Linked DNA regions of Homo sapiens. The protein of the gene in region 1 purifies or fractionates together with the protein of each later gene. This does not show direct contact. Each region holds a gene or a part of one and is shown on either strand. Other genes may lie near its edges. The genes, in order: CRAMP1, GON4L, NPAT and PPP4R3B.

Region 1 (7,026 bases):
CTTGAGGGGAAGGCGAAACGTGGTTTGTGACTCTCCACTTTTGACGAGATGCAGCGTCCCTCTTTGTTGGCCAGGCCATCTGGTTGTAGCCCTCAAGGCGTCCACCACATGGTTTGTGTGGCATTCGTGGGCAGGTCAGGCTTGCAGGGTGAAGACAGGCCCGTTTCACTGTGACGTAAAGTGCAGAGTGGCAGGTGTGTGGGCAGTCGGGTGAGGGCTCTATGGACAGGGAGGGAACTCCAGGTCCAGGAGATCATCCGCATGGGCTTAGCCCATGTGAAAGTCCTGGAGCAGCATTCCCCGAATCTAGTCCCCACAATGTTGAGACATTGGCAGGTGTTCCTTGAGGATTTTGTGGGTAGATACTTGAGGGACACCCTGGATCCAAAAAAGCTCAAAACAGCTGTTTCTCACGGACACCTCCGCTACCCAGTATCCGAATGTGAATCGTGACTCTTGAGATGATGAACTCATGGGCAGGCTTTGGAGAATTCCAAGCCAAGCCATGATATGACTGGAAATTTTAGCCAAATATACACATAGACACAATTAATAGCGTAGACCTCCATCTCACAGTGTGTGGCGTTTCTCAAACCTGTTTGGCCCCAGAATCATTATTCAGGGCACACCTTGGACTCTGATGTTTCCCGAGAAGCCAGTCTCTGTCTCTTCCCCTGTTTGTGCGCATGTTCCTAAGTGCTGGGCTCTGTGGAGATGGGCGCTGCGTACGTGCCCTGAGGCAGCATGCTCACGCCATGCTGTTGAAAGGACGGGCCACAGCCCAGTGACAGGAGCCCCTTGGAGTCAGAAATCCAGAGTGTTAGCCTCACCCCAATCAGAATTTGCACCTTTAATAAAATCCTGGGCAACAGATGGCACTTGGGAGTGAGTAGCAGAGAAAGGGTGCAGTTAGTATTTGTGAAACGCTGCCCGTCGCGAGTAATGCAAACGTGTTCACCTTCAGAAAGAGCAGATCAGCGTTTAGCATGAGATTTTCCCGAGAGCCCTCCACTCAGAACGTGAGTATGTTTCTCAGCAGGTCCTCGTCATCTGGAAGGATGGGCTGAGGCATTTGTGGATGAAAGGGTCTGGTGGTAGGGCTAGCATGAAGGGGGCGGGGGTGGAGCTGGGTGGCCCTGGGATGAAACGGGTGGGAGCTGCTGATGGACATACAGGGGAAGGAGAATTACTCTTTGCTCTGCTTTTGAAAACAAATTTTAATTTGTCTGACATTTCCCATAATCAAAGCATAAAATTTCATTTACGCCATAGCTCTATTCAGAATTTTCCAGACTTCTTGCATTCACAGTGTCATGCAGTTCATTAAGGGATATTTCTGCAGGGTCTGCTGTGTGCAAACAATGGCCCCTGTCCTCATGAGGCTTCTACTCTAGAGCAGGACGCAGACAATAAGCGCTGAAAACGGCACATTCTACGTATTTGCTCATGGGACAAGATCCCGGTGCCGAGGCCCTCCCGTCCTCCGTCTCCTCAGCTCTGTGCTGCCTCACTCACTCTGTCATGGCCACCACCTTGGTCGTGCTTTTCAGTCAAAGCCTCTTCCTGTCTCAGGGAACATGCCTGTTGCTTCTTTAAAAAGGAACGTACTCCCCATGTGTCCTCATGTCTCTGACGGGAACGTGCTCCCCACATGTCCTCAGGACTGATGGGAACGTGCCCTCACCACATGTCCTTGGGATTCTGACGGGATCGTGCCCTCCACCTGTCCTCATTTCTCTGACGGGAACGTGCCCCCAGCTCTCCTCATGTCTCTGATGGGAACGTGCCCCCAGCTGTCCTCATGTCTATGACGGGAACGTGTCCCCCACCTGTCCTCATGTCTATGATGGGAACGTGTCCCCCACCTGTCCTCATGTCTGTGATGGGAACGTGCCCCCCACCTGTCCTCATGTCTCTTGACGGGAACGTGTCCCCCACCTGTCCTCATGTCTATGACAGGAACGTGTCCCCCACCTGTCCTCATGTCTGTGACGGGAACGTGTCCCCCACCTGTCCTCATGTCTATGATGGGAATGTGTCCCCCACCTGTCCTCATGTCTATGATGGAAACGTGTCCCCCACGTATCCTCGGGTTTTACCCCACCTCCCGCTCAGGTCCCAGTCCTTGGAGCACCCTCTCTGGCCTCCTTTTCCCGGCACTCTCTGTCCCCTCACTCTGCATCTGTTTCTGCAGGCTGCCCCCAGTGCCTGTGTCTGCTGCATACAGTCTGTCTACCTGTTGGGTGTCTTCCCCCATAGGTCTCATGGCGGGCGGGGGGACCAGCACCCTCACCCCAGCCATCAGATGTGCCAGGCACATCATAGGCTCTCTGCGAGCACTTATCTAAAGAGTGTGCGGGCAGACGACAGGTGATTGTGATTCTGCACAGAGCCCTGGGCTGCCATCCCTAGCTTAGCTTCCTGCAGCGGGAGTCGATAGGAGCTTCTCGTCCTGTTTCAGGACCCGCCCTCCACTGAAGGGCCAGCAGGTCGCGGTGACTTGTTCTTCCTGTCTCCTCTTCCTGCAGGTTGTGGATTCCCAGCTGGTGTGCATGATGAACGAAAACAGCATTGATTACATTTCTCGGTTCAATGACCTGGCCCAAGAGCTGTCCATCGCTGAGCCTGGCCGCCGAGAAGCTCTGTTTGATGGTGGTGGAGGCGGCCCCGCTGTCAGTGACCTGTCCCAGTGACCACACGTCCTGGTGGCGGATGAAGCCCTCTTCGAGCTAGAGAAAAATAGATAAGCCCAGCAGCCCCAGAAGATGGTCTGAACAGAGGCATCTCCGCACCCAAGACTGTGCAACGGGCAGGAACGTGGTCACAGAGCTGCTTCCCCACGAGCAGCAGGCAACGGCGTCCAAGGAGACTAGGATGAGTTCTTGGCAAGGGCCAGCGTTAGAAATCACTGTGGTACTAGAGCCGTTCTTCACCACGCCTGGGCCCATGTTAGGGTCTGCATAATGATCCCATTTCAGCCTGTGCTCTGCCTCGATTGTTGTGTTGGACATTCCGGTGGCATTTCCTTCTGAGACAAGGGAGTATGTGTGCCTTGGTGTAGTTGCTGTGCACTAGGAGCTGTGATCTCCCTCTCTGCAGGGAGGCCCCAGCCCCTGCTGCTTGCTTTCTGCCAAACCTGTGCTATGCATCAGCTGTGCCCTCTGTGGACTGTAACGGGCAGGACAGTTGGGTGTGGCCTGGGCTCATGCCTGGTGGTGTCACATCCCAAGGCAGCAAGAGCATGGATACCGATCACAGGGCTGCTGCGGAGTCGTGGGGCCCTGGGCTGGTGCCTCCCCTCCCTAGAGGTTTTGTTCGTACTCTTAACAGGGAGTGGGGGCAGGAAGAGTCCTGTACTATGCAGGTTGTGTGGACTTTACATGGGACCCTGCTAAGCTGGTTGAAAATGTTTTTCTTGTGTTTTAAGAATTAGGAGACATGGAAGAGGAAGAACAAAGTCCCCTCTGTAGTTGGTTTCCTTCCTGTGTCCCTTTGCAAGCTTCCAGGCGATCTAAGGTGTCATTTCTCCCTCCTGGGGTGACCCTTAGGCGCTAATATGATTACAGCGAAGACTTTCCTGATAAGTTCTCAAACTCGATGTGTGACTGTTTGGCACTTGAGACAAACCTGCCTTTGCAGGGAAAGTGTCTCTCACGGGCATTGGTGTGGGCGTGCCTGACATACGTGTTCAGTCCCTTGCATACCTTTGCCTTGAGACTTCTGTGTCTCCTTCCCATTTGGGACACCCAGGTGAGGGCCCAGACATCTGGATGTGGTCAGACCTCACCAAATATATGCCTTCGTGGTGGTCTCCCTCCTTGCGCCCTCTTGGGTGGCCAGCGTTCCTACTGCAGACGGCCCAACATCCAGTCTTTCCCCAGGACAGAGCTAACAAGGGCCCCTTTGCCTTCTCATCCTCAGGAGTTCCAGGCACATGAGTCACCGTCCATCCACATCCAGTGTGGCCTGGAGCTGCTACAGAGGTGTTGGGCAGGCCATGCCTGTGCCGCCATCTCTCCCTTCCTGCCTCATTTCATCCCCCGCAGCAGCCGGGATTGATTGTGCTTTCCTAACCCCCTTGGACCTACTCTCCCTCCTCCCCACCATTCCTCTTCCCCCACATGTGTGGCACGCTGCAGCCCTCAAGGCCAGCCCTGGCCCCTCCACTGCTTCTCTCCCCATCCACAATGGAGAAGGTGAAAAGAGGAGGGAAAGGCCTTTGGTGTGGACAAGCATGTGGACGCCCTCCGTCCTGCAGTCTTGCCAGCCCACCACAGCCACTGTAGACCACAGGCAGGCCGTGTACTGCACCACTGGGAGGACGTGGAGAGGACAGTGAACTTCCAGGCAAGAGCTTCCTTCTTTTGTCTCACGAGTTTTTCTTAGAGCTCTTGCCTGAGCTGGCTTCCCTCCTTCAGACATTGACATGAGATCTTAAGCAAACAGTCCCAAACCTCTTAGGGGTGAAAAAAGAAACATGCCACTTGATTAGGAGAGAGACAGCAGTGTTTGAACTACAGCATCTTTACACTAGCTTGTGTTTTGTGCTACGTATACCAGCTTCCAAAATTAGCATCTCATTGAGCCAGAGAAGACAAGGAGATCTCCCTCTGGGCATCTGGCTTTGCTGCGTCTCTAGAGGGTTAGGATACCAGGCCGAGTTCAGGCCACTGCTAGCTTTCTCATACTCCCACAGGCTAGACCAGAGATGCCAAGTCCCAACAGCACTGAGCTGTGTGCACTGTGCCAGGGACAGGAGGGTTTGTGAACTGCCTGTCAGGGTACCTGTTAGCCCCTGACAACTCAGTGGGGTGAAGTTTTGGAGGTCAGAGTCTGCTTTCGTAGGCTCTTTAGACAGCACCTACCACTTGGTTCTCCAGCGTAGACTCCTGGGAGCAGCCAACTGCAGCCATTGCCATCCAGTGGGGAGATGGGTTAGGGAGGAGGACGGGCTGACTCCTCTCCTGTAATAAAGCTGACAAGAGTTCTAGAGGATTCTGCTTCTCTAGTAACTAGACAGGTGATACGCATTTGCTTGCCACATTAAGGGAAAATGGTGTCATTTGTTGCAGAAAAACAATGGATACATTTTCTTCTGGCCTAAATGAATATTTATGTGCAAACATAGGCAACTGTTAAAGGCTGGAATTTTCAAAAGATCCAAACAGAGACTTCCTGCATCTTCTGCCTTTCCAACAGAAGCGGTGATCGTCTAAGTATGAGCCTGTGGCTTCCTTTGTGCATTTGAGCATGCTGTAATTAAGATGAGATCAGTTTCTTAGAAAAAGCTTTCCTGAATCCCTCTGACGTTGCCTGGGATCTTTCTGTTGATTCGTCTTTTCTGGAGATTGGGACAGAGCATCTGTGGTCCAGGGAAGTTAGTCCTCTGGCCTCAATTCTGTTGTGGATGTGCAGTGATAAGCGGGCATTGCGTGCCTCGGGGGATGCCTAGTTCGTGGCTTCCTGGCTGTTTTGTCCTTCTGTGTCTTGTAGCTGTAGGGTGCCAGCTCAGGGAGTGGGGTGTTGGCGGCGTTTCCGCGGTTGGCCTCCTTGCTTTGCCGCACCTCCAGGTTCTGGGCATGAGAGGCCGTGGCCTCATTTCTGGTGGATAACCTTTTTAGTTTAATAGCATCTTTAATTAGATCACAGCATTGAATTCAAAATTTCTTCTGCAAAGAAAGTTGTGGGGCATAAGACACCGGGAATGAGGGAGGAGGAAGACAGTTGTGTTTTCTCTTTAAACCTTGAGCTCTAGCCGATGCATTTGTCAGGAAATACAGCACTTTGTCTTAAGAAAACAAGGAAGGAGGCCGGGCGCAGTGGCTCACGCCTGTAATCCCAGCACTTTGGGAGGCCGAGGCGGGCGGATCACCTGAGGTGGGGAGTATGAGACCACCCTGACTAACATGGAGAGACCCTGTCTCTACTAAAAGTACAGAATTAGCCGGGCGTGGTGGCGCATGCCCATAATCCCAGCTACTGAGGAGACTTGAGGTAGGAGAATCACTTGAACCTCAGCGGCGGAGGTTGCAGTGAGTCGAGATCGCGCCAGTGCACTCCAGCCTGGGCAAGAAGAGCGAAACTGGGTCTCAAGTTAAAAAAAGAAAGCAAGGAAAGAGTAATTTACAACGAAGGAAAAAAACCCACAGCACACCCTTCGCGGCTGTCAGCGCTCTCCTGATGTCACAGTGGCTGCGTGTCCTTGGGGTGGGTGAGGTGTGGGGAGCCCAGCCCCTGGCCCTGCCTCCCGCGCCCCGCTCCCCTTCTCTCTCTTACTCGGTTAAGCCATAGCGAGGCCTCCGCTCGTTTCAGATATGAATTTGTTTTATAGATTATAAATATGCATATACAGTGTATGTATAAAGCAGAATGCCTGCCTTTCCTGGTTATTTTTTGTACCATATTGTAAATTATATTATTTATTCTTTACCAATTTTGGGAATAAAAGGTGTTTTGGTTATTTAATATAATAAGAGCTGTTAAACTTCTGTTTAAATTTCCAGTTCAACTTGTAAATGTTTTTATTGTGCATAAATACATACTAATGTTGATCTAAGGACTGTCGTTTGTGCCTGTTCTTCAGGGCCGCGCGCCCATGCCCGCAGTCCCTGGTCGGGCAGGTGCGGCCCAGGTGCGGCCCCGCGGTCGGCTCGCGGGCTCCCGCAGACCGGGCTTCCTCCCGAGGGCGCGGCCGTCCCAGGGCCCGCCCGGCCCGCCGCCCAATGCGAGCTCCCACCTCCGCGAGCGGCGTCGCCTTCCCCAATCGGCTGCGGGCGCGGCGCCGACCGTTCAAAGCCTAAGTCGTCGGGGGTGGGCGTGAGGGGCGGTGGCCGCGCTGAGATAGGCTGCGGAGGGATGATTGGCGTCTTGGCGCCCAATGGGCGCTGGCGGGCGGCCTTGAGTACCTGCGCTGGGCGGGCGGGAACGGCGCGCGGCGAGCTGAGGGTGGCGGCGGTCGACATGTTCCAGGTCCCGGATAGCGAGGGCGGCCGCGCCGGCTCCAGGTGCGGCGCGGGGCACACGGGA
Region 2 (7,026 bases), on another chromosome or scaffold:
ATTTCCAGAGGAAACCCTCTGGATCTCTTCTGCAACACCCCTCCCCCAAAACATGTTTAATGTGGTATCTTTGTGGAGAACAGATACTCAGAAATTTTTAATTCAATTCTCATCCGTTGCTAGATTTATATTAGCTTCGTTCACTTTCTTTCTTTTTTTTATTTTTTTATTTTTTTTTTGAGACGGAGTCTTGCTCTGTCGCCCAGGCTGGAGTGCAGTGGTGCGATCTTGGCTCACTGCAACCTCTGCCTCCCAGGTTCAAGCGATTCTCCTGCCTCACCCTCCTGAGTAGCTGGGATTACAGGCATCTGCCCCCACACCCAGCTAATTTTTGTATTTTTAGTAGAGATGGGGTTTTACCATGTTGGTCAGGCTGGTATCGAACTCCTAACCTTATGATCCACCCGCCTCGGCCTCCCAGAGTGCTGGGATTACAGGCGTGAGCCACTGTGCCTGGCAGTTCACTTTGTTAAACTGATTGTTACCTTATCTGTCATGTGTGGGGCTAAGACCCATGTTTATTTCAGAAAACACTGCTTGTTCCTCATCAAGACATAGTCTCTCAAAAGCACTACAGAAGCCACACTTGCTCTTTAGACTTCCTTTCTCAATATGAAGTAGCTGATTATCTTGTTGTCATCCCAATTAAGGCAGTTACACTGCAGACTCTGCGTAGAACTGACTTGACGGACTTAGTTCTCATACCATTTTCCCAAAAACCTTTTCCTTGAATTGCTCCATAATATTGAATAGGATTTGGCTGGGGTGGTGCATGTGGTGGAATGGGAAGAACACAGGTTGCAGGGACAGGGAAACAATCCTTTTCATGTGTGCTACAAGGAGAGAGCATCAAAGCTGCTGGAAAAGGCCGGAACAATCATCGAGCTCGCAACAAGCGGGGAAGTCGGGCTCGGGCCAGCAAGGACACCTCCAAGCTGCTGTTGCTGTATGATGAGGACATTCTCGAGCGAGATCCACTCAGGGAGCAGAAGGACTTGGCCTTTGCCCAAGCTTATCTGACCAGGGTAGGCAAATGCTGCTTCCTGTTATTGCCAGTCTCTATGAATGTGGCTGCTTCTTCAAGGGAGATGTTTTTCAACATAAAGTCTGTTTTTCAGGCTATGCAACAGGCTTCATATTCCTCTATCTTGGCTTTTCTGGCAAAAGATCTCTGTGACAGAACCACAAGGAGACATAGAATTCAATCATAAGTATGTTTATTGTTAGTACCCTGCCATCATCCTTCTGTTGACCAGAGATTGGCAGAAAGATGATACCACCATCATCAGTGGGAGGTTGTGACTTTACTGGGTGCGCTGATAAGGACCTTTATAGAACCTTTGGCTTGAGAAGAAAGATAGTGGGTACACTGGCCAGCAAGTGGATTTCAGGAAAATACATTGCTCTTAAGACATGAACCAGCTGGGCGTGGTGGCTGACACCTATAATCCCAGCACTTTGGGAGGCCGAGGTGGGTGGATCACCTGAGGTCAGGAGTTAGAGACCAGCCTGACCAACATGGTGAAACCCTGTCTCTACTAAAATACAAAAATTAGCCGGGTGTGGTGGTGGGCGCCTGTAATCCTAGCTACGGGGGAGGCTGAGGCACAAGAATCACTTGAACCTGGGAGACGGAGTTTGCAGTGAGCCGAGATCGCACCACTGCACTCCAGCCTTGGTGACAGGGCGACACTCTGTCTCAAAAAAAAAAAAAAAATGAACCAGGCTGGGCGCTGTGGCCCTTGCATATAATGCCAGCACTTTGGGAGGCTGGGGTAGGAGGATCCTTGAGTCCAGGAGTTCAAGACAAGACAAGCCTGGGCAACACAGGAGACCTCCATCTCTACAAAAATAAAAAAAAAATAGTGAGCTAAGCATGGTGGTGCATGCCTGTGGTCCTAGGTACTTTGGGAGTCTGAGGTGGGAGGATCACTTGGGCCCAGGTGGTTGAGACTGCAGTGAGCCATGATTGCATCAGTGCACTCCATCCTGGGCAACAGAATGAGACCCTGTCTCAAAAAAAAAAAAAAAAAAAAAAACCACACATAAGCTAACCACTTCTTGGTAGTGTCCTGGAGAACTGTGTCCTTCTCTTGGTAACCACCTGATTCCTTTATCCCCCTGGAAAGCAGAATACTGGCAATGATAGTCATAGCTTTTTCTTATCTCCTAATGTTTTACTGACATTCCTAACTTATGTATTATTTACTCTCAAATTACGCCCATGCTGAAATACATGTACAAACACATGTTACCTATTTCATTATGGGGCTGTAATCAGTAAGGAAAGGTTAGGGCTGTGACCTAGAGAAAAGCATTGCTTGGTTTTGTGGGTAGAACTGTGGAACGTGGAAGATGATTTTTCACTTGCTCACTCCCAGAAAAAGATCTTTACCTTGCCTATTGCTCTGTGTCTTCCATTAACAGTCAGATGTTAAGATCTGTTGGAGGCACAGCCTCTGATGGATAATTCTTGGAGCTCTCTAACCATAACCCTGCCTTCTCCCTTGTACCCTTATTGCTTGTTGTGGCCCAAATAAAGGGTGTTGATGATTGAAAGTCTTCCCGTGTAGGTGCGAGAAGCCCTACAACATATCCCTGGCAAGTATGAAGACTTCCTTCAAGTCATCTATGAATTTGAGTCAAGTACCCAGAGACGGACGGCTGTAGATCTCTACAAAAGCCTGCAAATTCTGCTCCAAGACTGGCCTCAGCTGTTGAAAGACTTTGCTGCTTTCCTGTTACCTGAGCAAGCTCTGGCCTGTGGATTAGTAAGTGAATGGGGAAAAAAAGTACACTGGGACTCCTGGGTCAGAGTGAGACTGGGATTGAATGGGGTTGAATAAGACTCTTTCAGTCTCCCAGCTCCTTCCAGACACACAGCCATCCCCTAGCCCAGAGTGATAAAAGCCTCTGTCTTTTCAGGGTATTATCTTTCCAATCCCATTCTCCCATTTTCTTTACATGATAAATGAGAGGGTTTTACCTATAGTTGCCAAAGGACACCTTAGGTGAGTCATATGCTCTCTGCTTCTCACTGGTATCAAGCCAGACATTCATTTAACAAATATTTGTTAGGTGCCTCCTAACTGTCAGGAATTCCTAGCAATTCCTGACCTCAATTGCTAGGAATATAGTAATTACAAAAGACTAAAATTCCTGCCCTCGTGGAGCTTACGTTATCATGAGGAAATTCAGATGATACTCCAGAAAACATATATATATATATATCATATATATATATATATAATATATAAAATATAAATTATAAAAATAAATATAAACAGCAAAATATATAGTATACAATGTTTTATAGTGATCATGTTTTACAGAAAAATAAAGCAGGAAAGGAAACTAGAGGGGTGGTTTTATACACAGCGGTCTGGGAAGGCCACTGTGGTATGGTAACGTGAAATGTTGCAGAATAGGAGGCTAAACATGAGGGATATCCCAGTAGTCCTGGACTTATCGTCATAAAAATAGGAACAAAGGGAGGAACGGGATTATTCTAAGAGTTTTATTGGGGTTAAATGACAGTGGGGTAGTTCTGCATATAATGTGTGATGCCCATTTTCTCTTCTGGTATTATGAGGTTCCAATCAGTGTATACGTGAACAAAAAAAAAAATTTTTTTTTTTTTGAGATGGAGTTTCACTCTTGTTGCCCAGGCTGGAGTGCAGTGGCGTGATCTCGGCTCACTGCAACCTCCGCCTCCTGGGTTCAAGCGATTTTCCTGCCTCAGCCTCCCGAGTAGCCGGGATTACAGGCATGCGCCACCACCACGCCTGGCTAATTTTGTATTTTTAGTAAAGACGGGGTTTCTCCATGTTGGTCAGGCTGGTCTCGAACTCCAGACCTCAGGTGATCTGCCCACCTCGACCTCCCAAATTGCTGGGATTACAGGTGTGAGCCACCACACTTGGCCAAAAAATTTTTTTAAAGAGATAATGTCAGCCAGGTATGGTGGCTCACACCTGTTATCCCAGCACTTTGGGAGGCCAGCCTGGACAACATAGCAAGACCCCATCTTTACATAAAATAAAAAAATTAACTAACTGGGTGTGGTGGTGCACACCTTTGGTCCCAGCTATTTGGGTGGCTGAGGTGGGAGGACCACTTGAGCCTGAGAGGTTGAGGCTTCACTCAGCCATGATTGCTCCACTACACTCCAGTTTGGGTGACAAGAGCAAGACCTTGTCTCAAAAACAAAAAAGAGAGAGACAATGGCCAGACACAGTGGCTGGCATCTGTAATCCCAGCACTTTGGGAGGCTAAGGTGGGAGGATCCCTTGTAGCCAGGAGTTTTGTTGTTGTTGTTTTATTGTTGTTGTTTTTTGAGGCAAAGTCTGACTCTGTCACCCAGGCTGGAGTGCAGTGGTGTGATCTCTGCTTACTGCAACCTCTGCCTCCCAGGTTCAAGTGATTCTCCTGCCTCAGCCTTCCGGGTAGCAGGGATTACAGGCATGCATGACCGCACCTATCTAATTTATGTATTTTTAGTAGAGATGGGGTTTCACCATGTTGGTCAGGCTGGTCTCGAACTCTTGACCTCAGGTGATTTGCCTACCTCGGCTTCCCGAAGTGCTGGGATTACAGGCATCAGCCACCACAGCTGGCCTGTAGACAGGAGTTTGAGATGAGCCTGGACAACACAGGCCCCTGGGATCCTCCTGCCTCAGCCTCCCAAGTAGCTCAAGCTACAGGTGTACACCACGGCCCCTGCCTAATTTTTAAATTTTTTTGTAGAGACATAGTCTCAGTATGTTGCTGTTCTTGAACTCCTGGCCTTAAGCGATCCTCCTGCCTTGGCCTCCCAACATGGGATTACAGCTATGAGCCACCTTGTGCAGCCTGAAAGTTCTTTGTAATATAAACTCTAAAGTATCATATGAATTTTGGTGGCTGATTTCACAATCCTTAAAACAGCAAACAACTTGAAATATATACATCTCTTGAAGCTGTTGCTCACATCTTAATTGCTTTGGGTGGCTACCCACCAGTGGCCCAAGGTGGATGGAGGTTAGGGTTTTAAATTAGATCTCAATAGTTGTAAACTAGAATTTTAAACCAGGGTTCTGTCATCTCTTGTGTCCTAGTCCACTAGTTCTTATCCTTAGAACCCTCAAGTCCTGCTCTAGCTGTATCATGACTCCTCTTTTGCCCACTTTCCACTCTGGTAGTTTGAGGAGCAGCAGGCTTTTGAGAAGAGCCGCAAGTTCCTTCGGCAGCTGGAGATTTGCTTTGCAGAGAACCCCTCACACCACCAGAAGATTATCAAGGTCCTCCAAGGCTGTGCAGACTGCCTTCCCCAGGAGATCACCGAGGTATTCTTTCCTGTCCTGCTTTCTTCCTGTTGTCTTCCGGGCCTTAGGCCTTTCCCTTGTCTCTTTCCCCAACCTACTCCATACCTTTTTGCCTCTGGAGGCTCATGGGCTTCCTGGAGGAGATGAAAAAGGCAAGGACTTTTCAGGCTCACCCAAAGCATAAAGCACTGGGATAGGGAGGGATTGCTACCTGAAACCGGAGCCTGTCTGATCTTCACAGGCTCAGGAATGCCATGGATGTGCTGGAAGGGATGTTCAGCGAAGGAGGTTCTGGGACCTGGGAGGGGCCTTACCTCCTTGCTCTGCTTGGAATAGTGCCCTAGCTGGAGATCAGTAGGGTGGAGTGGAGAGTGGAATCATTAGGAATCAAATCCAGTATTAGTACCCTTCCCCTATAGGCAGCTAAGGAGGAAGAGAAAGTTTTAGTATTCTTTGTTACCAGGCAGAGTCTCTGTGTGTTTCCCAGTTGACTGGGAAAGCAGAACATGGAAGTATGTGGGATTGATTGGGAAGGGCAGCCTAGAGAGGCTCTGGAGACTTCCTCTTTCCCTCTGTGACTCTCCTCAGCTCAAGACACAGATGTGGCAGCTCCTCAAGGGCCACGACCACCTGCAGGATGAGTTTTCTATCTTCTTTGACCACTTGCGCCCAGCAGCTAGCCGGATGGGTGACTTTGAAGAGATCAATTGGACTGAGGAAAAGGAGTATGAGGTATAGGACCTAAGGCTGCTGTAGCCTTATGAAGGGGGAAGGCCACACGTGGGAGGGATATTGGCCTGGTGTCTGTGCTCAGCAGCACCAACTCCTTCTCAGTTTGATGGCTTTGAAGAAGTGGCCCTGCCTGATGTGGAAGAAGAGGAGGAGCCTCCCAAGATACCCACAGCCTCAAAGAACAAGAGGAAAAAAGAGATCGGGGTCCAAAATCATGATAAGGTATTTTCTTTGTTTATTTGTTTGTTTTTGAGACAGAATCTCGCTCTGTCACCCAAACTAGAGTGCAGTGGCGTAATCTTGGCTCACTGCAACCTCCACCTCCCAGATTCAAGCGATTCTCCCACCTCAGCCTCTCAAGTAGCTGGAATTACAGACAGGCGCCAGCCACCACGCCCAGCAAATTTTTGTATTTTTAGTAGAGATGGATTTTCACTATGTTGGCCAGGCTGGTCTCGAACTCCTTACCTCAAGTGATCCACCCGCCTCGGCCTCCCAAAGTGCTGGGATTACAAGTGTGAGCCACTACGCCTGGCCTAAAATCATGATAAGGTATGCCAAGTTATTGAAAATTATCTATGTTTCATGAATCAAGCCTTGCGTTTTCTCACTGAACATTTCTGTGGCTTACTATGGCCCAAGGTTTCTAGTTCAAAGGCTCTAGGATCTGAGACGATCACGGAGAACAAACCAAAGGTCAGGCTGATACAGACATGCAGAGCCTTTGGGAAAACTGCAGTTGTTGCAGGGGCCCCAGGATTCCCTAGTTAGAAGGATTTGTTTCTTCCCCTTTTCTGTCTAGCTCAGAGTTATTACCCTTAATTCAACTTTTTTCATTTTTGCTCATGTGAGAAAATAGAGCCAATTGAGGATGAGCTTGTTATTAAAAAAATAAAATAGAACCAAGATTCCCCATATTAATAATAATGATAGCAGCTAATACTTAGTTGTATTACAAAGTGTCAGGCATTCTGGGAAGTATTTTAATGGA
Region 3 (6,950 bases), on another chromosome or scaffold:
TCTTCCTCAAAGACTTCTTCTGCCTAGTGTTTTTCCCCTTGGTTAATGTCACAATTTATTTTTTTCCTTTACTTTTGGAAATGTACATGCCCATTATTGTCTCTCAGACCCTCATCATCTCTTACCTGGAATATAGCCATCTACATAGAGTTTCTACTTCCAGTTTTCTGTCTTCTCAGTTCCATCTTCCACATTATTGCCAGATCTTCCAAAGACATAAACCTATTCATGCATCTTCCCTATTTAACACCCTTAAAGGGGCCGGGCATGGTGGCTCACTCCTGTAATCCCAGCACTTTGGGAAGCCGAGGAGGGTAGATCACCTGAGGTCAAGAGTTTTGAGACTGGCCTGGCTGACGTAGTGAAACCCCTTCTCTACTAAAAATACAAAAATTAGCCAGGCGTGGCAGCGTGCACCTGTAATCCCAGCTACTCGGGAGGCTGAGGCACTAGAATTGCTTGAACCCAGGAGGTGGAGGTTGCAGTGAGCCAAGATCATGCCATTGCACTCCAGCCTGGGCAATAGAGCGAGACTCCGTCTCAAAAATAAATAAATAAATAAATAAATAAATAAATAAATCTCTTAAAGGATTGCCTCTGAAACCTTTTGCATAATATGTAAGTTTCTTCATAATCTCATCTTTGCTCTTCTTTCTAGTTTTGATATCTTGCTGCTCTCCCACATAAATGCTGAAGCTCGTGGAAATTAAAATATGGCTATTAGAACTCCAGAGCATGTGCTCTGAGTGACATAGGCTTGTAAACATGATAGGTACCGGGACAGAATTTTAAAATAGATATAATCTGTTGTTTTCTTTAAGTGACTACCTGGATGTAAGTAGTACATTATGTGCTATATTGAGCATTGTAATTTGTAGATCCAAAGACTGGATTTATAATATTTGCCTGAACCGGGCGCGGTGGTTCACGCCTATAATCCAGCCTTTTGGGAGGCCCAGGTGGGCAGATCACTTGAGGCCAGGAGTTTGAAACTAGCCTGGCCAACATGGCGAAACCCCATCTCTACTAAAAATACAAAAAATTAGCTGAGCATGGTTGGGGGCGCCTGTAATCCCAGCTACTCGGGAGGCTGAGGCAGGAGAATTGCTTGAACCTAGGAGGCAGAGGTTGCAGTGAGCCGAGATCATGCCACTGCGCTCCAGCCTGGGTGATAGAGCATGACTCTGTCTCAGAAAAACAGACAAACATAATATTTGCCTGAAGTTGATGCATGTCATTTATTCCATATCTGGATTTCCTCTGTAGCAGTGGGGAAATAGCCATCTTGTACTTATTTCAAAGCTGCTTTTTAAAAGCTGCTTTGTCAACGTGTTCTATTTGTGTGTACATTAGCTACCATTTAAAATTTTTTCTCATGATATGTGATAATTGTCATCTGTTCTATCCTCTTTCAGAGGAGTATATTCTTTTTCTCAGGAATGTTCATTTATAATTTCAGGAAAACAAGTAAATAATTTGGTGGATTCGTCAGGTCATTCAGTTGGATGTCATGCACAAAAGTGAGTATAAAGTAGTTTCTATCATAGATTGTTTGAATGCTCAGATTTAAAACATAAAGGATTTCTTTATGCTGCTAGAAATAGTTTTGTTTTGTTTTGTTTTAGAACTGAAGTTTCTGACAAAAGTATTGCCACAGATCTTGGGAAAAAATCAGAAGAAACCACAGTTCCCTTCCCAGAAGAGAGTATAGTTCCAGCTGCTAAACCATGCCACAGACGTGTACTCTGTTTCGACAGCACTACTGCTCCTGTGGCAAATACGCAGGGGCCAAACCATAAGATGGTGTCCCAAAACAAAGAAAGGAATGCAGTCTCTTTTCCTAATCTTGACTCACCCAATGTGTCCTCCACCTTAAAACCCCCTTCTAATAATGCTATCAAAAGAGAGAAAGAGAAGCCTCCTCTGCCTAAGATTTTATCTAAATCGGAAAGTGCCATTAGCCGGCATACCACCATAAGAGAAACTCAATCAGAAAAGAAAGTTTCACCAACAGAAATTGTGCTTGAATCTTTCCATAAAGCAACAGCTAATAAGGAGAATGAATTATGCAGCGATGTAGAAAGACAGAAAAATCCAGAAAATTCAAAACTATCTATTGGGCAGCAAAATGGGGGTTTGCGAAGTGAGAAATCTATAGCTTCACTGCAAGAAATGACCAAAAAACAAGGCACATCTTCAAACAATAAAAATGTACTTTCAGTAGGTACAGCTGTGAAGGATCTAAAACAAGAACAAACTAAATCCGCCAGTTCTTTGATTACCACAGAAATGTTACAGGATATACAGAGGCACAGCTCAGTAAGTAGGCTTGCTGATAGTAGTGATTTACCTGTGCCCCGGACACCTGGCTCAGGGGCAGGGGAAAAACATAAAGAAGAACCTATAGATATTATCAAGGCCCCCTCTAGTAGGCGTTTCAGTGAAGACAGTAGTACATCAAAAGTAATGGTCCCTCCTGTCACCCCAGACTTGCCTGCCTGCAGCCCTGCCAGTGAAACAGGAAGTGAAAACAGTGTAAATATGGCTGCCCACACATTAATGATTCTCTCCAGGGCAGCCATTTCTAGGACTACTTCAGCAACTCCTCTGAAAGATAACACACAACAGTTTAGAGCATCTTCAAGGAGCACCACAAAAAAGCGGAAAATTGAGGAATTAGATGAACGTGAGCGAAACTCTCGTCCTTCTAGTAAAAATCTTACAAATTCATCAATACCAATGAAAAAGAAGAAAATTAAGGCAAGTTTGAAAGTTTTAATTTCAAAACCACACCTTTTTTTTCCGCTTTAGTGATTAGCGAATTCAGCAGTTCTTGCCACAACAACTTGACTGAACGTTATGGCTAAGACAGCTTTTAGTTTTCATTGACAAAATACATAACCATGATCACAGGACCAATAAGCAGTAGATGCAGGATTCAAACTCAGACTTGTAGGGCAACAAAGCAGTCCAGCAGTGTTAGTGTAGTACGCACAAGGTGTCTAGGTGAAACAGCATTTTCAGGAAAAACTGCTGAGGCATTTGTTTATAAACATCTTTCCGGGGGAAAAGAAAAAGTTTTTCTTTCTTTCTTGGTAGAACTCAAGTTTTTTCATGAGCGTGACATAGTCATGAAAGATTGGGAAACAATATTAAACACTATTGTGTAGAACTACCAAGTAATAAATGACTTTGTTCTTAGATGTTCAGTTTTTTTTTTCCCCCACGTCTTGTAATCTCTTCCATAGGCCCTTAAAAATGTTAGCATATTAGAGCAGTGGAAAAATCAAATTTACGTATGTTTTTCCATTTTTTTGAGAGAGGGTTTCACTCTCGTTGCCCAGGCTGGAGTGCAATGGTACGATCTTGGCTCACTGCAGCCTCCGCCTTCCAGGCTGAAGTGATTCTCCTACCTCAGCTTCCCAAGTAGCTGGGACTACAGGCATGCGCCACTGCATCTGGCTAATATTTTTTCCTTTTTTTTTTTTTTTTGAGACAGAGTCTTGCGCTGTTACCCACTAGAGTACGGTGGCGTGATCTTGCCTCACTGCAACTTCCGCCTCCTGAGTTCAAGCAATTCCCTGCCTCAGCCCCCTGAGTAGCTGGGATTACAGGTGTCTGCCACCACACCCAGCTAATTTTTGTATGTTTAGTAGAGATGGGGTTTCACCGTGTTGGCCAGGCTAGTCTTGAACTCCTGACCTTGTGATCCACCCACCTCGGACTCCCAGAATGCTGGGATTACAGGCATGAGCCACCACGCCTGGTCATTTTTTCTGGTTTTTTTTTTTTATAGAGACAGTCTTTTGCCATGTTGCCCAGGCTGGTCTTGAAGTCCTGAGCTCAAGTGATCTGCGCACCTTGGCCTCCCAAAGTGCTGGGATTACAAGCATGAGCCACTGCGCCTGGCCTTATGTTTTTTATTTAAGCATGGTTGTCTCTAGGAAGGCAGTGCAGGGATAGCATTGATAAATGAAATCCATTTATTTTCGATTTGGTTAGCTGTTTAGTAAGTGGATTGAATAGAAAGAAAGTGCTTAAAATATCATAGAGGAAGTATGGTATCAGGGAAATAATTTAGGCTTTGTTGCCCTACAAGTCTGGGTTTGAATCCTGCATCTACTGCTTATTGGTCCTGTGATCATGGTTAAGTCTGTAGCCTTTCTGAGTCTCAGCCTCATCACTTGACATGATATTACCAGGTATCTTAGGTTGTGAAGTCTAAATGTAGTATACATAAAGTATCTAGTGTATATTAAGTTTTGGAACTGATAAGTACCTGTAACCCTAAACATCTGTTAGTAAAGCTTTCTAAGCAGTAATAACCACCTAACATAGAAAGCATGTTCTATCTTGTCTCATTCAACATTCAGACACTCTGGATTTGTATCATGTCTTTTGCCATAAACTAACATTCAGGTGCCATTGAAGTATATTTAAGTAACTTTGGGTTTATAAAACTTGTCTCTACTTCTCTATAGAAGTAAAATTCTAATAGACTAAAAAAGTTTGACAATTTTAGTAGTATGTGAAAGAACCCAATATACTGTTTTAGGTGACTTACTAAGAAAGCATTTTGGCCTTGTTTTGAGTTTATTTTTTCTTTCTCTTTTTCAACAGAAAAAGAAGCTTCCCAGTTCATTTCCAGCAGGAATGGATGTAGACAAATTTTTGTTATCATTGCATTATGATGAGTAAACATTCTGGACACATAAGAACAGTAGGTGTTAAAAACTCATATCCCTTAAACTGAGTGTAGGGAATGGGATATTGACAGAATCTGAAAGCATGACCTGCACTTTCATTGTACTGAAACTTCACTTTATATCTAAATCATGCTGTTTCTGAAACAGCTTCCTAGTTTGTAAATAGACTTACTTGGTATATTTTTATTTTGGGAAAAACGTTTGCAGAAATGTAAGTAAAGCCAATCTGCAAAACTGTATAGCTTTGACAATTCCATATTGTAAATACTGTGTAAATCTTGTTGAAATAGAGGTTAAATCAACCTAATGTTCTTACACTGTGTTTTTTGACTTCTTATGATCCCTAATTCTGAGACTTACTCATCTGGAATAGTTTCTCACTTGTTTTGGAGGAAAATGATGCTTATTCTTATAAATTACCTTCAGTAACTATTCAATAAGACATTTAAATACACAATCACTAAGTACTACAAAATAATAACCACCTCAACTGATAGCAAAATATCTAATTAGAAATCAACAGTTTGATGAGTTTTTTTCCTAGAGTGAATACTACCCCTTTCTTATAATTGCTGTAAGTATTATATTTCTGGAATTTCACACTTTACCTACTCTGATCACTCTGTTCTCTTTGTTTTAAAGAGAGAATTTTGTAAACCATTTATTGAATGTTCTGATCTTTCATTTATAACTTAAGATTTTTTACAGAACTTTAAGTGGTTAGACTATTGAGCCATAAAATTTTGGTTTGTAGTAGAGATTTCTCGGTATGTACTTTTCCCCTAAATGCTGGGGATTTAAAGAATTGCACTAATTCATAGAACTCTTTACATTGTAGTGACCAATGCACATATAATTTAAATCTTGTGTTCTATGTGAGAGTTTATGTGGAGGATTATCTTCTGGTGTTGTGTCCATCATAAGATGTAAAAAGAGAAATCATAGTTTTATATTTTAGTTTCTCCTACAATGGGTATGTTAAATAACTATATCTATACTTAGATATAGTGCATTGTCTGTGTCCCTTAAAGTGTTACAAAGAGTTTCTCTCAAAAGGTCCTTAAGGAGAGTGAGAGATGAGAGAGGTGCCTTCTCTGTATTAGACTCACACACATCAGTCCAGTTGAAGAATTGGTTTAAACTTTTAAATGAGAACAGAAATTATAATTAGTACCTGACCAATTGTGCCTAGATATTAAAGTATGTTCTCTTTAGTACTTTCCGTTCAATTAAATATCAGTATATTAGGGATTTTTTTCTACAGGTGTATATTTTGTTGAAGAGTCACTTTCCTCAACCATTTTTTTGTACTGGGCCTTTAAAAAAATAAATCCATCCAACTTTAACACAACATTTCTCAGTGTAGAAATCATGTCTTCTTAATTGCTGAACCTTACTGCAAAAACTTGTGATGTAAGAAATTTGTATGGTGTGGCAGTGGTCTATTCCTAAGGAACTAAATATCATATAGTTAATGTTTATTTAACTCAGCTTGAGACTGTACTACAGTTAGGTTTGAATAAATATTTTCATTAACTTCAAAAGTTTGAATTACTTTACATTGGCAGTCTTGTTTAGAAACTGATTAAATTCCTTTGCAAGTCAGTTCTTTTTGGGAGTTTGTACAATGCTGAAAATCACAGTTTTCTTCTTATTCAATTCATAGTTGTATGTACTAAGCACTGAAAATTCATATACAAATAAAATAAGTTTACTTTCTTCAAGATTCATAGTTAACTAACCAGGAACTGCTAAGTAAAGTTGAAAGATAACTTGTACTTGGAGCTTTTATGTTCAAGAGCAAAATCATATCCCCATTTTACCTTAAAAGTCCACAGGTCCTGAACTTAATTATACTATTGTACCTGGTAACCTATTTGAATACTTAAATGCCCAGTGACTGCATTTCAGGGTTGATGTATACTACAACAATCCATGGCTGTTTTTATAATTACATATGAGGATCCAGTCTGTTGTTTGGATATTACTTAGAGGTTAATGCAGTCAGTGTATGCCAAATCTGAGAAGTGTTGTTAAGTAAAATCTTGTTACAGATTTAGCCCTGGATATATTAGAACTATAGTGTGTTGAAATTGCGCATAAGAAAAGCATCCATCAGCATTCATGCAAAGGCTACATGTCATGACTATTAGGAGTAATTTCAAAAGCATATTACTATATATTCTGCATTCATCCTTTCTCTGGTCATCATCTTTTAGGCTCAGGCCCAGCTTTCTGAAATTA
Region 4 (7,026 bases), on another chromosome or scaffold:
TCTCAAAAAATAAAATAAAATAAAATAAAATTCTACAATCAACATTTTGGTAACAGAAAAATTCTAAACAATTCATTGAAATTGTTTTGATTATCCAAATTTTTTTCAGTAAACATGAAAAAATCTCACAGACGGGAAAAGCAAAGTTTGTGTGTAATGCTGTTTCACCTACCTTGGTGGCTGTTACTGACGTAGGCAAGTTTGTGGTTTTGGAAGAGGATCCATTAGAAGTTGCTGGTGGTATCTGAGCCACTACAGATTTACTGTTTGTTCCATTAGCAGCACTGGCAGAGTGGGAGAAAGTAAATTTGAAGCCACCAGGAGATGTCCTTTTGGGAAGGTTTTCCTTGTCTTCACTTTCTTTTGCTAAAGCAAAAGTAAAATTTTGAACGTATATCAATAAATACTGCTAAGTCAAAACATCTAAAAACAGCAGTAATTAAAAAACTTATAAAACATTGCTGCCCGGGCATGGTGGCTCACGCCTGTAATCCCAACACTTTGGGAGGCTGAGGCAGGCAGATCACCCAAGGCCGGAGTTCAAGACCAGCCTGACCAACATGGAGAAACCCCGTCTCTGCTAAAAATACAAAATTAGCCGGGTGTGGTGGCGCATGTCTATAATCTTAGCTACTTGGGAGGCTGAGGCAGGAGAATCACTTGAACCTGGGAGGCAGAGGTTGTGGTGAGCCGAGATCGCACCACTGCACTCCAGCCTGGGCAACAAGAGCGAAACTCCGTCTCAAAAAAAACCAAAAAAACAAAAAAAAATAACACCAAAATTAATTGCCTTTGTTTCCTAAGAACTTTTGAAAAAGAACATGATGTGTACAGTGATGATATGGTCTGGCTCTGTGTCCCCACCCAAATCGCAAATCAAATTGTAATCCCCACATGTCAGGGGAGGGACCTGGTGAGAGGTGACTGGATCATGGGGGTGGATTTCGCCCTTGCTGTTCTTGTGATAGTGAGTTCTCACGAGATCTGGTTGTTCCAAAGGGTGGCACTTCCCCCCTTGCTCTCTCTCTCCTGCTGCCATGTAACACATGCCTTGTTTCCCATTCACCTTCCGCCACAAGTTTCCTGAGGCCTCCCCAGCTATGTGGAATTTTAAGTCAATTATACCTCTTTTCTTCATAAATTACAGTCTCAGGTAGTTCTTTAGAGCAGTGTGAAAACGAACTATACAGAAAATTGGTAACAGGAATGTGGTACTGCTATAAAGATACCTGAAAATGGCAGGGCGCAGTGGCTCACGCCTGTAATCCCAGCACTTTGGGTGGCTGAGGAGGGTGGATCACTTGAGGTCAGGAGTTCAAGATCAGCCTGGCCAACATGATGAAACCTATTCTCTATTAAAAATACAAAAATTAGCTGGGGGTGGTGGTGCACACCTATAATCCCAGCTGCTCTGGTGGCTGAGGCAGGAGAATTGCTTGAACCCTGGAGGCAGAGGATGCAGTGAGCTGAGATTGTGCCACTGCCCACCAGCATGGATGACAGAATAAGACTCCATCTCAAAAAAAAAGATACCTGAAAATGTGGAAGCGACTTTGGAACTGGGTAATAGACAGAGGTTGGAACAATTTGGAGGGCTTAGAAAAAGACAGGAAGATATGGGAAAGTCTGGAACTTCCTAAAGACTTGTTGACTGGTTTTGACCAAAATGCTAACAGTGATATGGACAATGAAGTCCAGGCTGAGGAGGTCTCAGATGGAGGTGAGGAACTTATTCGGAACTGGAGTAAAGGTCATACTTGGTATGCTTTAGCAAAGAGACTGGCGGCATTTTGCCCCTGCCCTAGAGATCTGTGGAACTTGAACTTGAGAGAGATGATTTAGGATATCTGGTGGAAGAAATTTCTAAGCAGCAAAGCATTCAAGTGGTGGCCTGGGCTGGGCACAGTGGCTCATGCCTGTAACACCAGCACTTTGGGAGGCTGAGACAAGCGGATCACGAAGTCAGGAGTTGGAGACCAGCCTGGCCAACAGGGTGAAACCCTGTCTCTACTAAAAATACAAAAATTAGCTGGGCGTGGTGGCACACACCTATAGTCCCAGCTACTTGGGAGGCTGAGGCAGGACAATCAGTTGAACCTGGGAGGCAGAGGTTGCAGTGAGCTGAGATCATGCCACTGCATTCCAGCCTGGGCAACAGAGAGAGACTCCATCTCAGAAAAAAAAAAAAAAAAAAAAAAAAAAAAAAAAAGAGGCCTTCTGGCGGTTTCTAAAAGCGTATGCTCATATGCATGAAGAAAGAGATGGTCTGAAATTAGAATTTATATTTAAAAGGGAGCAGAGCATAAAGTTTGGAAAACTTGCAGCCTGACCATGCAGTAGAAAAGAAAACCCCATTTTCTGGGGAGAAATTCAAGCTGGCTGCAGAAATCTGAATAAGTAACAAGGAGCCAAATGTTAATTCACAGGCCCAGAGGCCTAGGAGGGAAAAATGGTTTTGTGAGCTGGGCCCAGGGCCCTGCTGCTCTGTGCAGTCTTGGGACACCCTGCATCCCAGGTGCTGCAGCTCCAGCCATGGCGAAAAGGAGCCAAGGTACAGCTTGGGCCATGGCTTTAGAGCGTGCAAGCCCCAACTCTTGGTGGCTTCCATGTGACACGGGGCCTGTGGGGTAGAGGCAAGAACTGAGGTTTGGTAACCTCTGATTCTCAAACCACCTAGATTTCAGAAGACATATAGAAATGCCTGGATATCTAGGCAGAAATCTGCTGCAGGGGCAGAGCTCTTATGAAGAACCTCTACTAGGGCAGTGCGGAAGGGAAATGTGAGGTTGGAGCCCCCACATAGAGTCCCCACTGGGATACTGCCTAGTGGAGCCATGAGAAGAGGGCCACCATCCTCCAGACCCCAGAACAGTAGATCTACCAACAGCTTGCACCATGCACCTGGAAAAGCCACAGGCACTCAACTCTAGCCCATGAAAGCAGCCATGGGGGCTGTACCTGGCAAAGCCATAGGGGCGAAGCCAGCCATGGCCCTGGGAGCCTACCTGTTGTATCAGCATGCCCTGGATGTGAAACATGGAGTCAAAGGAGATTATTTTGGAGCTTTAAGATTTAAAGACTGCCCTGCTGGGCTTTGCACTTGCCCAGGGCCTGTAGCCCCTTTGTTTTGGCCAATTTCTTCCATTTGGAATGGGAGCATTTACCCAATGTCTGTACCCCCGTTGTATCTTGGAGGTAACTAACTTGTTTTTTATTTTATAGGATCACAGGCAGAAGGGATTTACTTTGTCTCATATGAGACTTTGGACTTGGACTTTTGAGTTAATGCTGGAATGAGTTATGGGGGACTGTTGGGAAGGCATGATTGGTTTTGAAATGTAAAAAGGACATGAAATTAGGGAGGGACCGGGGTGGAATGATATGGTTTGGCTCTTGTCCCCACCCAAATCTCATTGTGAATTGTAATCCCCAGGTGTTGGAGGAGATGACTGAATCATGGAGGCAGAAAACCCCCTTGCTATTTTTGTGATAGTGAGTTCTCACGAGATCTGGTTGTTTCAAAGTGTGTGGCACCTCGGCCGGGCTTGGTGGCTCATGCCTGTAATCCCAGCACTTTGGGAGGCCAAAGTGGGTGAATCATCTGAGACCAGGAGTTCAAGACCAGCCTGGCCAACATGGTGAAACCCCATCTCTATTAAAAATATAAAAATTAGCTGGGTGTGGTGGTACATGCCTGTAATCCCAACTACTTGAGAGGCTGAGGCAGGAGAATTGCTTGAGCCCAGGAGGCAGAGGTTGCAGTGAGCCGAGATCACGCCACTGCACTCCAGCCTGGGCAATGAGAAGGAGACTCCATCTCAAAAAGCAAACAAACAAACAAAAGTGCATGGCACCTCCTCCTTCACACTCTCTGTCTCCCGCTCCACCATGGTTAAGATATGCTTGCTTTCCTTTCGCCTTCGACCATGACTGTAAGGTTCTCGAAGCCTTTCAGCCATGTTTCCTGTTAAGCCTACAGAACTGTGAGTTAATCAAACCTCTTTTCTTCATAAACTACCCAGTCTTAGGTAGTTCTTTTTAACAGTATAAAACGAACTAATACAAGTGGTAAGTCTTTATTAGCTAGAATCTTAGAAATCTCAGTATTAGAAAGGACCTTACGGATCATAACAAAATTAGCCATTCTATGCTAGAACTCTACATTGTGGTATCTAGCACATACATCTAAAATCTCATTAGCTGTCTGACTCTTCCTTTTATTGTCTCCCTGTAGCTTCCACTCACTGACTCTACACTTCTTTACTCATGGTAAAAACCTAGTAATTTCTCTCACAAGTCAATATTCCAAATGCCTAAAGACAATGATCAAGTCCGTAAGTCCTAAATATTCCAGGTTCCTTTTTCTGTTTGTGTTATGACATAGGTGTCCAATCCCTTTTAACATCTGGTTATTATTTTTATATATGATTCTTAACAGCATCTCACTCAACACTGGATACAGAACTTCAAATATGGCTGTACTGCCTCTTTTGACAATAGTCAGGGCAGTACCTGTAATGAGTAAAGGCAGAAGAATTTGTCTAGCAAAGGTACCGATTTCTTAGGATATTTTAATAAGCTTTTTGCTCCGCCACGCTGAGGCAAATAAAACTTATCAAACTAATGAGTTGAAAATGAGTACGAACAATAGTTTCAAAGAAAATGTAATAAATGAAATTAATTTTCTGAGAATTGTCTTTAGAAAATGTCACATTCAAAATCACAAACTTACATAATAAATCCAAGAAAGGCTTTTATCTTCTAAGACATAAATTTTTTCTTTTGTTTTTGAGATAAGGTCTTTCTCTGTTATTAAGCTGGAGTGCAGCGGCAGCTCATGGCTCACTGCAGCTTCGACCTCCTGGGCTCAAGTGATCCTCCAGCCTCAGCCTTCCTAGTAGCTGGGACTCCAGGTAAGTGCCACTGTGCCCATTTAATTTTTGTGTTTTTTTGTAGAGACAGGGTTTTACCATGTTACCCAGGGTGGTTTGGAACTCCTGGGCTCAAATGATCCACCTGCCTCAGTCTCCCAAAGTGCTGGGATTACAGACGTGAGCCGCCATGCCCAGCAAGGTATAAATTTTAATTAAATATTTAAATGATATACTCAGGGCAGTATTCCAAAAAATGGTAATTCCTCAGGCCACAGAAGTAAAATGGTTAGTTCTTTTGAAAGATATATTACTAGCAAGATCTTCATTTTATAAAACAAGTTAAGCACATCTGAAAGCCAGGGGAAGTTTTACTTTTTCACTTCTCTTGTTAGTATATCTTTATGTAACTTTTGTAATTTTAAAATTTCAAAGAGCAAAGTTACTTGTTTGAGCTCAGTTTATCAGCTGTAAAAGACACAGGCAAAGTACTCTAGAAGGTTTCTATGAAGCTATATGGTCTCTGTTATTACTGAGAATTTCAGTATAGAAATAAAGCCAAGACTATTCACAGAAAGAAAAGTATAAGTAGATAATTCAATTTCTAACTAGCAAATTAACAGCATTACAAAATAGCAAGTTTGAAGAGAAACATTTTAAACATGAAAAGAATTCCCAGACAGATTTGGAAAAAGTACATAATTTTAAAAGAACACAGTTTGGTATAAAATTTTTGTCTTTCTTGCTTTGTAAACTATAAACAAACCTTCACAAAGCAACAAAATAATTTCTGCACTAAATAAGAGGGTACACTGTGCAAAAATTCCGAATTTTAATACCTTTTTTAGTCTCCATAAACTTTTCATAATTATCTGGAAAATCATCTTCTGGCTTAGGTTTTTCCACTGGTGCCACAACTGCTTTTCCTTCCTCTTCTTCATCTTCATTAAACCACATTTCTTCATCCTCTTCCAAGGCTTTTGCATCTCTGCGAAATCTGTTACTACGCAATATAGATGGTACACTGTAAGAAATATATCACAAATATTGAGTAATGATTTAAAGTTCATCATCAGATTGAACTGAAGGAAAAATATGTATAACCAAGATGAACTGAAGTAATTTTAACTGACTATAATTTATATCAAAATAATCTCTGTAATGATAGAAGATGTAGCCAGAGAACACTCCAAAATATTTTAGGATGTTGTAAATTAAACTAAATATTCTTCGTAAGTTACAACATGGAGTAGTAATTCAACATATAAATGATATGGGGTAGGGGGGACGCCTTACCCTCCTATTCAACTCTATGCTATCCAGTGATGGAAAGAAAATTCCTCAGTAAATTTCACATGGAAAATCTGAACTACAAACAATTTTGGACACAGTTTTGTAGGCTATAAAAGCAGTATACTTAAACAATACCTGTTCAGTTTCTGATTTTGTCTGTCTTTTTCTTGCTCATATTTAGTCTTCAATCCTTTGAATGTCTGAACATATTCAATCGATTCAAGTGCTTTATAAAAGTTTTCAACTATATGGGCAGTAAGAGACTTGATATCTTCCTGTATAAGCACAAAATTTACATTTAAAATATAATACAATGCTTGTTAGAAGAAAAACTTTAAAATTTTGTTTTGTAGTTCTAAAGCTGATCAAAAAAGGTTTTTCAAAATCACCTTCCAAAATGTAATGTCCTGGTTTCTTTACACATGAGTCAGGACTGCACAGAAAACTTGAAAAAAAAGGAGAAGCAATTTACTGGAGTCCTTTTATAGGACTATAAAGAGCATTCGAAAAGTAAATAGATTTATTTTACATCTTCTATTTTTTGTATATATATATATATATATAGCAGTTTACAATTTAAAAAGCACTTTTACATAAAATTTCATTTGATCTTCACAACAATTCTATGAGATAGGTTTTATTATTCCCATTTTAGAGAAAAACCAAAATTGAGGCTCTAAGAGAGGCTGGATGGTTTGATCCAGAGCACACGGCTGGTTAGAGGGCAGATGTTAAAATTACATTTTCAAAATACTCACGGTGATGGATACCCCAAATACCCGGACTTGATCATTACACATTCTATGCATGTAAAAAATAAATACATGTACCAAATACATCTGTATAATATTATGTATTAATA

The links.
Region 2: the proteins of CRAMP1 (region 1) and GON4L purify together in Homo sapiens (affinity purification with mass spectrometry; 2 studies listed by BioGRID and IntAct, with this or other methods). This does not show direct contact.
Region 3: the proteins of CRAMP1 (region 1) and NPAT purify together in Homo sapiens (affinity purification with mass spectrometry; 2 studies listed by BioGRID and IntAct, with this or other methods). This does not show direct contact.
Region 4: the proteins of CRAMP1 (region 1) and PPP4R3B purify together in Homo sapiens (affinity purification with mass spectrometry; 2 studies listed by BioGRID and IntAct, with this or other methods). This does not show direct contact.

The regions. Positions count from the first base shown.
Region 1 is NC_000016.10:1,671,353-1,678,378, forward strand, and holds the end of CRAMP1 (protein cramped-like), read left to right. Parts: intron 1-2,528; coding exon 2,529-2,693; 3' UTR 2,694-6,556; downstream 6,557-7,026. Other genes in the region: JPT2 (jupiter microtubule associated homolog 2), read left to right, coding at 6,961-7,004.
Region 2 is NC_000001.11:155,756,189-155,763,214, reverse strand, and holds part of GON4L (GON-4-like protein), read left to right. Parts: intron 1-840; coding exon 841-1,025; intron 1,026-2,573; coding exon 2,574-2,771; intron 2,772-5,180; coding exon 5,181-5,324; intron 5,325-5,891; coding exon 5,892-6,035; intron 6,036-6,137; coding exon 6,138-6,257; intron 6,258-7,026. UniProt on the Homo sapiens protein: Has transcriptional repressor activity, probably as part of a complex with YY1, SIN3A and HDAC1. Required for B cell lymphopoiesis.
Region 3 is NC_000011.10:108,156,690-108,163,639, reverse strand, and holds the end of NPAT (protein NPAT), read left to right. Parts: intron 1-1,459; coding exon 1,460-1,520; intron 1,521-1,598; coding exon of another isoform or gene 1,599-1,625; coding exon 1,626-2,760; intron 2,761-4,620; coding exon 4,621-4,698; 3' UTR 4,699-6,425; downstream 6,426-6,950. UniProt on the Homo sapiens protein: Required for progression through the G1 and S phases of the cell cycle and for S phase entry. Activates transcription of the histone H2A, histone H2B, histone H3 and histone H4 genes in conjunction with MIZF.
Region 4 is NC_000002.12:55,558,603-55,565,628, forward strand, and holds part of PPP4R3B (serine/threonine-protein phosphatase 4 regulatory subunit 3B), read right to left. Parts: intron 6,610-7,026; coding exon of another isoform or gene 6,592-6,609; exon of another isoform or gene 6,554-6,591; intron 6,440-6,553; coding exon 6,300-6,439; intron 5,896-6,299; coding exon 5,711-5,895; intron 367-5,710; coding exon 173-366; intron 1-172. UniProt on the Homo sapiens protein: Regulatory subunit of serine/threonine-protein phosphatase 4 (PP4). May regulate the activity of PPP4C at centrosomal microtubule organizing centers.